Homo sapiens: one gene and its partners. The protein of the gene in region 2 purifies or fractionates together with the protein of the main gene of each other region. This does not show direct contact. Each region holds a gene or a part of one and is shown on either strand. Other genes may lie near its edges. The genes, in order: SIX2, EYA1 and CERT1.

Region 1 (3,752 bases), on a different chromosome or scaffold from region 2:
TCTGCAGCCCCAGCCTAAGCACGCTAAGATGTAAGATGGCCATTGCCAGGGCTGGGACCAGCCAGCCAGGTGAATCCTTTTAACCACGTAGCTGAAGGAGACGTGCTGAAAAGAGTACGTTGCACTTTTGTTGGAGGTCAGCAAATTGGGCTTTGAACCTCATCACAGTCTGCGGTAAATTCTTCTCCATGTCTCCCAGGGTCCTTAGATCCAACTCTGGGGCAGCCCCTGTGCAGCAGTGCATAGGACTCTGGATAGGGTGGCCTGGACACAGCAGACCTCCTCCCAGCCCACAGATACAGACTCTAAAGATGCCACCTGGATTTCTGCAGAAAGCTTCCCCTTTCTGCACCCGCACTGGCTTGGGACCTACTTTGTCAGCCCTGTGGCCTCATTCAACATGCCAGGGTAGGCCCCTGGAAGCTAAAGTCTTAAGAGGAGTCCCAGGGTTCCATTCTCTCATGCCTACAACACTCCCAAAGGACTTCCGGAATGCTGCAGCACAGGGAAAATTTTTGAAATCTTGCAGAGAAGGAAATAAACACAAAGGCATAAATATATGCCTTACCATAGACACCAAGCAAAACCAAAAGTTGAACCCAGGGCTCTAGACTCCCATTCCGCGCTCCTAGCACAAACTCCATAGAAAGCATAAAAGGGTGGGAAAGAAGGAACTGGCCTAGACTCGGGTTCCATAGCCCTAGACTGGCTGAGGGCAGAGCCCAGGATTTGTGCTGGCTTGGGTCAGGCACTGAGTATGGCCCTAGGAGCTCCTGGCCTGCAGCAGCTGAGGGGGGAAGAGGAGGAAACTGAAGGAAGTGGAAAGGACATGTCCGGGAAGGAGCTAAGCCCCGGGCTTTTCAAAACGTAGAGCAAGAACACACCCATCCTCAGTTCTCCCACCTTTGTGCGAGCCCTTCTCCCACAGGACCAGCACCACATGTTTCCATTGGCACCCTGACAAAGAAGCAAAAAACAGGACCCCCTTTTAAAGCACCTCATCCCGGAGCTCAGCGAGCCGGTTCCCAGGCTGGAGTGGCCAGGAGCCGAGCCGATCCCCAGCGGCGAAGCGGGAGGACTGGGAATCTTGCCTCCGTTCTCCTCCCCGACCACCCACCGGGGAAGCCCCACCACCGTCCTAGAGTCCCTGCCGTCGCCCCTCTCCCCCGCCCCGGTGGGCAGACTGCGGGTCTGCGCCGTCCGGGGTTCTGCGTCGCAGCTGCCGGCCGGAGTCAGCTTCCATAGAGGCCACACGGAACTGCCTGGCGCTCCTCGGGCTGTGGGACCCGTGGGGTTAAGTCTGAGTCCCCGCCCGGCGAGGAGCAGAGAGCGCAGAGTTGGGGCGGTACAGGCCGCCAGGCAGCCGGCGGGGCTAGGAGAGGGAGGAAAGGCGGGATCCTCCGGGAAGTCGATTCTCCGGCGTCCGCCTGCGGCCACTGCCAAATCTTCCCCATTTCTTTCGTCTACTCCCTCCCCTTTTCCCTCGAGGACCGCTGAGTCCAGAGTTTCTAGGATGGGGGTGGGGCGCTGTCAGCAGAAAAAGCCAAGTCTTTGGGCGGCACCCGAGCACGTCCAAACTCTCCCATCCCACTGGCCTGCGCCGGGGTAGAATGTGCCCGGTGAACAGAGAGCCTGGGAGGGACGCGGTGACCTGGGGAGAAGGGGAACCCTGTAGGGTCTGGGCGAGGCTGCAGAGCCCTCTCCTAGCCAAAGCTGCCCAAACTTTCTTCCCCTGGAGTCTCCTTCCACCCCTCTCCCTCCCCTTCCTCCTGGACACCCCCTTAAACGGTCTCCGCCTTCCCTTCTCTCCTCTTCTCTCCCCACCTCGATCCACCCCTTTTCGTCTTCGCCCGCTCCCCCCGCTCTCCTGTCCTCCTCCTCCCTCCCTCTTTGGGCATCCGCCCCGTCAATCTCCGCCGCCGCCGGCCCCAACCCGGCCCCTCTCCGCCTCCCAGGCTCTCAGAGCGCCCCAGGCTCCAGTAGAGCCGCCCTCAGTTCTGCGCGGAGCGGGGCGATCTGTCAGCGGAGCCGGCCGGGGGGAGCCGCCCGGCCCGCCGAGGCTCGGGTTACCAGTGACTGACAGCGTCTCCATGGCGAATAATTTGACTCCGACTATTGTCTGGCGCTGGCAGGCCCCGGGTCAGATAACCGGACCAATCAGGGCGCGGGCCGCCGCGCCTCATGCCCGCTTAGAATAATATTATTAAGAAAGCTGAGAGCCAGCTAGACGGGAGGGAGAACGAGTGAGAAGCGAGCGAGGGAACGGCGGGCGGGCGCGGAGCATGCGGAGCGGCGCCCCGGGCGGCCCCCGGGCTTGGGCGAGGGCTTGGGCCAGGCGCGCGGGCCGTTGGGGTTCGGAGCTTCGTGGGACCCGCGGCCGGCGCGGGGACGTACGGCAGTGACTCGGGGCTCACCGGGGGCCAGTGCCGGGCCAGGGGGCCAGCCCCGCCCGCGTCTCGGCCCGGACGGCCCGGCGAGGAAGCTCCCATGCGGGACCGCGCGGCCCGGTGAGGGCGCGCGCGGGCGGGCGGGGACGCAGCCGGCACCATGTCCATGCTGCCCACCTTCGGCTTCACGCAGGAGCAAGTGGCGTGCGTGTGCGAGGTGCTGCAGCAGGGCGGCAACATCGAGCGGCTGGGCCGCTTCCTGTGGTCGCTGCCCGCCTGCGAGCACCTTCACAAGAATGAAAGCGTGCTCAAGGCCAAGGCCGTGGTGGCCTTCCACCGCGGCAACTTCCGCGAGCTCTACAAGATCCTGGAGAGCCACCAGTTCTCGCCGCACAACCACGCCAAGCTGCAGCAGCTGTGGCTCAAGGCACACTACATCGAGGCGGAGAAGCTGCGCGGCCGACCCCTGGGCGCCGTGGGCAAATACCGCGTGCGCCGCAAATTCCCGCTGCCGCGCTCCATCTGGGACGGCGAGGAGACCAGCTACTGCTTCAAGGAAAAGAGTCGCAGCGTGCTGCGCGAGTGGTACGCGCACAACCCCTACCCTTCACCCCGCGAGAAGCGTGAGCTGGCGGAGGCCACGGGCCTCACCACCACACAGGTCAGCAACTGGTTCAAGAACCGGCGGCAGCGCGACCGGGCGGCCGAGGCCAAGGAAAGGTACGAGTAAGTAGACCTTCTTCGGCGCCAGCTCCCCGGGGCCCAAGGGAGGGGTTCGCAGGGCTTCTGCCGGTCCCCCGGAGAGGCCTAAACTGGGCCCCCAGGCCCGGCCACAGCCCAGCGGCAGCCCGGCCTGACTTGGACGATGCTTAGGCCTTTCTATGCCGGAGACCCGGCGAGCAGGGATTTGTCTAAAGCGGGCAGAGCAATTCAGGAAGTTGTCAACTAACTACTCGGTCGCTAGAGGAAAAGGGTGGAGAAGCAGAGAGCTTCGGGGCAGCGCAGAACTGTGGGCCTGTATCCCCTGTGAGGCAGGCACAGTAGGTCTGGTCATCCTCAGGACAGAGGGGTTTGAGCCCAGATGAAAGGGGATTTGCAGATTTCTTGCTGGTGGTGCTTCCCGGCATTTCCCCCCAGCCTTAGCTCCAGGCCAAAGTGTGATGGGGTCGGGACTGGGGCTGGAACTTCCCTAGAATGACCTGGATGGGGAAAAGCCAGGCCATGAATTTTCGTTGTCACATGGAGTTGAGAGCGGGTCCTTTATCTCCTTAGAAAGGATCCAGAGGTGAAAGGGAGGAAGTGTCAGTTCTGGGAGAGAAGAGACGCATGCCCTGTTTTCTGCCTTGCTAGAGATAGCCGCCCTTC
Region 2 (3,752 bases):
TTTCTCATCAGAATGTATTTTATGTAAAAAAAATTTTCCTTAGCCATAAATCTGTGTTTTAGGGTATATTCTTGCTAAAATTTCTCCTCAATCGATATCTCCAACTATGGCATCATTGTTGTAATGAAAACTTAAATTTTAAAAATAAAAACCTAAACCTAAAATTGAAATGAAGTTCTAGGGAGACGTCAATGTTTTTTAAATGTTAACACTATATTTCCTTCTTTATCAAAGACTCCATAAAATAAATGCTTTAATACTACTGCTGATTATTTTCAAGTAGTATAGTACATTACTTTTTGCAATGCGTCGTTTAAAGAAAATGACAAAATAGAGTCCGCATGAAAACAAAAATAAGTATTTAAACCACATGGATGCTACCAATAGCTTTAAAGGATTGTTTTCAATATCAATTTACTTAAAATGTTGAATGAAATACTTTTGATATTTGATAAACAAGTGGTTTTATTCTTGCTGCAAGTGTTTTTCTTCTTTACAATGTATTCTTAATACGATTTTCACAAATGGAAATTTTCTTTTGAGAAAATCATTTATCATGTCTATGAAACTCACACAGCAGTGGACTTCCATTTGGCCCTCTAAAACTGAACAGTGGCTCAATTAGGCCTCTATGTCTGTCACCGCAAAGAATGTTCAAAGATTGAAAATCCATGGCTGCTTGCTCACTTACTGAACACTTTGGGCCTTGGGAGAACTCAAGCATGCAGAAAGTCAAATATCAAATATTTGATAATGCAAAAGCATGACTGTACATGTGTGCATGTCCTCAGACCCCAGACTGTGGGGGAAAAGACTCATGCAAGCATAAAATAAAACCTACTTTGAAAGACACATTATAAAAACAATCCCAAACCTATAAAACTACACTATGTGCTTACTATCGACCTTTTGTACCCCTTGCCATTTTAAGAAATAAAACAAAAACGTTTGCCTAAATTCAATGACAGCTCTGAATTTATTGAATTCTTGCAAATGCTATGCTCTAATGTGTTCAAAACCTCCTCCCAATAAATATAAACCCATGAGTCATTAACAATTCATATACTGATTTTGAATGGCAAATATTTTAAATGGTAATTCAAAAGTTTACAGATCTTGTTTTAAACTTCAAGGTCCACTCAAGCCTTACAAAGTGTCAATAAGAGAAAAATATATTAATTGGGTAAATGTTTGTTATATCACCTTCTGAAGATAAGTTTGTTTAATATAACGTTTGGGAAATTTATTAAAGCAAAAATATTTTCTTCCTTAAAAAGTGCTATCAATTTAATGTTGTTATCTGTTGTCCTTTCAAATGTTAAATGCTTCATTTTTTTCATATCAAAGTGTGTAAAAGTTACTTATGTATTGCAATGAACATATATGTACCGCTTTATTCAATACCACACAAATATATTTGAGATTTGTGCAGCAATTCAGAAAAGAGATATGAAGTCATCTCCCTGCAAGAATATGGTCCTGCATTACATTTATCTAGAGCATAACAAAAGTAATTGTTAACAATTAATTTGTAATTATTTCTTAATGATCCTGATCGCTCATAATTTGGAGGTTGGGAATTCTACTTCTAGGATGAAACCCTGTGGCTCATAAAGTACTAGGTACAAAGTGTCATAATTTTCCCCATGCCATAATGTTTTTCTTTGAAAACAAATCAAAACAATAATAAAAGCGCTCCTGTTAGCTTGGGCTTTGCCCACAGGACAGCTGTTGTCAGTCACTACAATTTTTCAAACAGTCAGCTTGTACTTACAGCGCTTACATCTGCTGCATCCACCAGTTTAATGTGTTCCTTCGAATTTTCTGGGTTAGCAAACCTCCATTCCTGACATAGTTTTGCTCCTGGATGGGTACGCGCGGGGGCTCTCAGGCGCTCTGGTGCAGCCGCGGCGCTTCTGGGAGTGGAGCGCCTCTGCAGGGGAAAGCTCGGCGCAGGGGGCAGGCGCCTGGCCGCTGCCGCAGGCTCGGGCTGCCGAGCGACTGAGCGAAAACGTGTTCCCCAGGAAGAAACCCGCCACAGTGGACGGCAACAGGAAGGCTTAAAGTCGGAAGTGGCACTGGAGAGTTTCTACCTCGCCCCAAACTCGGAGCCATCAGCTCCCACCGTTCTGTTTGGTAACAGCTTTGCGCCCAGCGCTCCTTCCCCACCAAACAGCAGCGGCAGATAGCATCTGAGAACCCTAGACAAAGAAACAGCAGAATCTCATCCCTCGATTTGTTTGCGCAGCCTTGTAGGTCTGCCCATGGAGCCTCGGGGCTTTCTTTTTTTTTTTTTTTTTTTTTTTTTGGTTTTTGCAACGCAAACCACAGCTATTCTCTTGTCCTAACCTTATTGGTTTAAATGCAACAATTGAAAGGAGCACTGCTCTGTCTGACTCAACCTTGCTGTTTAAAAAAAAAAAAATTATGTAAATGAACGCGCCCCACGCTATCTGAATAAACAGCTGTGTGAGAATAACTTCTCTGAGACGTGGTCAACACACACGCGTCCTCTTGCAACAGTAGTTACCAATTAAGATCTTTGGGGAGTAGTTACACGTTATCTTTTACACTTTTCCTAAACTTTTTTCAGGCCCTGAAACTTAGGGAATCCACTACTTTTCATAATTTATTTCCTAACTAACGTACCTACTACTGAAACAGGTCTGGGGGAAATAAAAAACTAGAATGGCCATTTCCCTTTAAGTAGAAAATGAAAAAGCAAACGTGCAAGCTTTTATCAGTTTAATAATGAAAGCCTGAAGGATGAATCCGAAATGATTTCTAGAATGGCAAATCTTCTGTGAACAATTCCTTGGCTATGAACCAGATAATGTTTCAGTGTTAATATTTTTAAATGGTTTTTGGAAAAGATTCATGTTATCTAGAACTCTTTCTTTACAGCTTATTCTTTTAAAAAAAAATTCTTACTGACCTCGGAATCTATGCATGACAGTCTATAACACTCACCTAAAGAGCTGAGCTTCAGTTAAGATATGTTTTATACAGATACATGACTTTGGTGATAAGACTTAACCATTATGTTGATTTCAAATATTCAAAGAAGGCATCGTTTATGTGACTAATGATTGTATCTCAATTTGCCAGACCTGTGCCAACATTCAAATACAAATGTTTATTTTGATACTAGTCACTCGTTGTAACCAATTTTGTGCTCTAAAATAAAATCTTTAAGCCCATCGGATTTTTCTTAAAACTGTTTTGTCATCACCCATAGAATACTATTCTGCTGATTAGGTCTTTTATTTAAGGAAAAAAAAAGCGTCCTCATTTTTTAGGCGCTTGATAGATGTGAAAAAAATTTTAAAAATCACAATAACTTTTTGCATGACTTTATAATACATTTCCAGATCGTCAACTAATAAAACACATAGACACAATCATAACTTTATATTGCTAATATGTAAATGAAAGCACCATTCCGATGCAAACAAAAAATAAAAAGCTGCTAATGACCAAAATTTATTACAGACTTCCCCCCAACCACCGAAAGTATGCCAATCTGAATTCCTCAGAAAAGAACACTTTGTCAAACATAAACGACAGTTTAAACTGCAAACTCACCTAGGATTTCATTTTGTATAGTACCAGCAAGGAATCATGGGCTAGTCATCTACCATATTTGGGAAGCCAGGTCAAAACACAGTTGATTGCTATTGGATCTGTTCATATATGCAGCAGAAATAGAATTATGTTACCACCTACTGCACTTTCTCAGACCAGAAGTATCA
Region 3 (3,752 bases), on a different chromosome or scaffold from region 2:
GTCCACCAACAGGAAAATAGATAAGCAAATTGAAGTCATACAATAAAAAGTTATACAATAAAATAGTGTATAGCAATAAAAAAGAATAAACTACTATTAAATATAACAACATGAATGAATCTCACAGTCAAATGTTGAAGGAAAGAGAAGGCCTGACTCAAAAGTATACTGTATGATTCCATTTGTATGTTGTTCCAGAACAGGCAAAACTAATCTATAATGACATAGGTTAAAACCATATGATCACCTCTTGGGGTGGTGGTATGATATGGAATAGGAAGGAGCATGAAGGAACCTTCTAGGGTGCTAGAAAAGTTATATATCTTGATCTGTCTATGGTTAAGGGGTGTATACAAACGTTAAAAAAAATCAGGTAGTATACTTAAGATTGGTACACTTCATTGTATGTATGTTATGTATTAATTTTAAATGAATAAAACAAAAATGCACAGCACAGCAATAATATTAAAGACTTACAGGAAAGTGAAAATGTATGTAAAAGTACACACCTGTGAATCTAATAATGTAAGAAAATGTATCTTCAATGAACAGGTTATCTCTTATTAACACTGTTAACCATAATTGCCTAATTTTAGAATTTTTGGTTTTCCTGGACATGACTGGCTAACAATTAAGTACACTTCTTCTACAGTGGAAAGGATCATTATTATTATAGGTAACCAATAAAAATCATCACTACAAAATAGTATTTTCAATTAGCTGAAAGAATCCTGGAACTGACATTATAAATCTACATAAAAGTATAATATAGACAATTCTATTATTAAATAGCTGTTATTATCACCTATTTAATTGCTCTCATTAGATTTTAAGCCCCTTGAGAGACTATTTCCTGCTCATCACTGTTTTCCCATTCCTAGCTTAGAGTCAAGCACACAGCAGGCACACACCTGAATGAAACAATTTCAGTGAAACCATATTGTTATCATTGTACTTTCTTTCTCAATTCTAAGAATTACCTGAAAGACGTATTTGTTGATAAACAACTTTCTCTATTTAAGAACTTTCTAGTCTTTAGTGTGTATATATACACACACACACACACACACACTCTACATACAAAAGATTAGAAAGTTCTTGAATAGAGTTGCTTACCAATAAATACACACATACCCTGCATATATTATGTATATATATATGAACACACACATACTGTGTGTACACACATGTGCAAATACACACACACTTACATTCCATGTAAAATGTAACTGGGATCCAGTTATTTCAACCTTGAGAAAAAATTACAGTGGAAAAGGTTAATAAAATTTGACATCAGATAGATCTGTAAGAAGACTATAAAACACAGTAGTGTCCAGATTTTAACCAATACTGCCTGCCATCTTTTCTGGCTGTTCTTTGGTGGAGAGTGTTGCATGGAGAAGCAACAAAAGTGGTTTTTTTCCCGCAGATCTTTGGTTTGCTCTGCTCATTGCTACCCAATAAAGAAAGAGAACTGGTAAGATTAACAATGCTGAAAGCAATCAAAAATCTATCTCCCCTTTTCAACATGGCAAATAAACTTGAATGCTAAAATAATCAGGAAGTGGTATATAATGTGCAAAGGTTTAAAAAAAATTATTTTAGGCAATGTGGTTAGAGTATATGACCAAAGAATATGATCCCTTAGTGAAGGAAAAAGAGACTAAAGAGAGAGAAAGTTGCCAAAAAGTTGGAAATAAGCTAGTCTGGACTAGCTGAATGATAATCTTGAACCATTAGTCTAATGTATTTAGGGAGTTGTCCTGTTTTTCAATACATTGTTTTTTTTTTGTGAACAGGGACTCTTCTAATAATTCAATTTGATCCACACTGAGTATAGAGTTGAAATCTTTGAAGATAATAATAGTTTGGCTCCAGAATGATAATAAATTTTCTATACCTTAAAAGGATGTTTTCATTACCTATTTTAAAAGAAGACATATTCCTAATCAAAATGGCTTACTCTCACCTGCACTTGTGCATTCTGAACAGCTCTCTTTTCTTCTAAAACATGGGAACCTTCCTAAACACATAGTGCTATCATTGCTTTCCTTAGTGTCCCGCTCAAATTCAAAGGCCTTCAAACTCTGCAAGCAATATAACTCAGAATGAATATGATTCTGGCTGATGTCTAATCTGGCATCCAGAGCTGATATATAAAAGAATAGAGAAAAATGCCTCTAACTCTATTACTTTTCACCTTTTGACAAGCCTCTGGGCCTCAATTCCTTCTTCTATAAAATGATGGCATTGGACTAGAACTTTAAGGTATGTTTCAACTCTAACATTTTACTATTATTCTAAAGCTGAATTATAAATAGAAGTTTTCCTACTTAACAAATCCACTGAGCCATGCTTCACACTAGAAACTAAAGAGTCATACTATAATATTATCAGTGCTGCAGTTTAAACAAAGGTGGGAAAATGTGAACATAGGGCAAATGCTCAAACAACATAATGTATGTTAAATGGTATCACTGACCATGGAAAAAATACATGAGTATTACTATAATAAGTAAATGTTTAACTTTGTAAATTGGCATATAAGTTAGTTCATATGCCTTAAATGCAGTTTCATACATCATGCACCTAAAGGTGTGTAATGTTAAATGGCTCAACACTTCTATTCCAAAGCATTACTAACATCATCACAAAAACTTTTATATTAAATCTTTCAAGAAAGCATACTGTATAGTAACTAAACAAGTAATTGGTGAATCTTGTTAGGCAAATGAGTTTAGGATGCCCATAAAGCTTCAGAGTAGTAGTATCATCTGCTATTTCTATCAACCCAAGATTCTTCCCTAAGAAGTTAGCTTGTTTTAAATATTCAAACAATACGTAAAACTTAAATGTGATTATTTTTAAAAGGAAAAAAACCTAGTCTTACCTTATCCAGTCTCTTCTGCCAGCTGTCCTCACGTTTAACCATTAGTTCAATACAATGAGAAAGTGTTGCAAGGATTCCAGCAGTAGTTGCTTTAAAAGTTATCGCTTCCCCTTTAAAGTCTATACCATTAATTCCTTTTGGTGTCACATGTGGAAATACTGAAAATGAAAATTATTCACTGAAAATATCTCTAATGAGGAAATAATTCATCACAATTTAAGATTAGAAAATGTTTAGAAAATTAGCAAGTCAGAGCAGGTTTTGGGATTTTAATTTTCCTCCTGTAGGCCAACATTTAAAAATCTCCTATCCAAGCTCTATAAGCAAAGAAGCTTCGTGGCAGCATATGTACTTTCAAGTCCTTTTTTTCTAGATTCTGTTTCCTGAAATTTATTTGCTGTGCTGCACCCAATTAATCAAATGGTAGGAGGAGCAATACTTTAACAATAACATTCTGACAGCTTAGAGTAGGACCTAATTATGGCAAGAACTACCTTATTATTTTGAAAAGCCTAGAATTAAAAAAAATCTGAAGATAAACTAAAGAATCTAATAAAATAATATACAATTTAAAAATAAACATACAAATTTAAATCCAGGACCAATGCACTTAAACTCAATGCCTTTTACGTTTCAATTTTATCATTTTAATTCATGGTTAGCTTTTGAATTAAACAAAAAATCTTAAAACTCAAAGATGCAAACAAGAAATCATAATATTCTATAGTTAAGAAATCATTCTAGTAGAATAATTATAAATGAAATAATGTCAATTTTGACTTTAAAAACGATTAGAGATATGACAGTAAAGGTATAATCCATCAAAGAACAAATTGTGAAACTTAAATCAAAATGTAAAATT

Evidence for each region.
Region 1: the proteins of EYA1 (region 2) and SIX2 purify together in Homo sapiens (affinity purification with mass spectrometry; 3 studies listed by BioGRID and IntAct, with this or other methods). This does not show direct contact.
Region 3: the proteins of EYA1 (region 2) and CERT1 purify together in Homo sapiens (affinity purification with mass spectrometry; 2 studies listed by BioGRID and IntAct, with this or other methods). This does not show direct contact.

What each region holds. Positions count from the first base shown.
Region 1 is NC_000002.12:45,007,906-45,011,657, reverse strand, and holds the start of SIX2 (homeobox protein SIX2), read left to right. Parts: upstream 1-2,205; 5' UTR 2,206-2,547; coding exon 2,548-3,107; coding exon of another isoform or gene 3,108-3,113; intron 3,114-3,752. UniProt on the Homo sapiens protein: Transcription factor that plays an important role in the development of several organs, including kidney, skull and stomach.
Region 2 is NC_000008.11:71,359,873-71,363,624, forward strand, and holds the start of EYA1 (protein phosphatase EYA1), read right to left. Parts: upstream 2,198-3,752; 5' UTR 1,775-2,197; intron 1-1,774. UniProt on the Homo sapiens protein: Functions both as protein phosphatase and as transcriptional coactivator for SIX1, and probably also for SIX2, SIX4 and SIX5.
Region 3 is NC_000005.10:75,413,986-75,417,737, forward strand, and holds part of CERT1 (ceramide transfer protein), read right to left. Parts: intron 3,049-3,752; coding exon 2,891-3,048; intron 1-2,890. UniProt on the Homo sapiens protein: Shelters ceramides and diacylglycerol lipids inside its START domain and mediates the intracellular trafficking of ceramides and diacylglycerol lipids in a non-vesicular manner.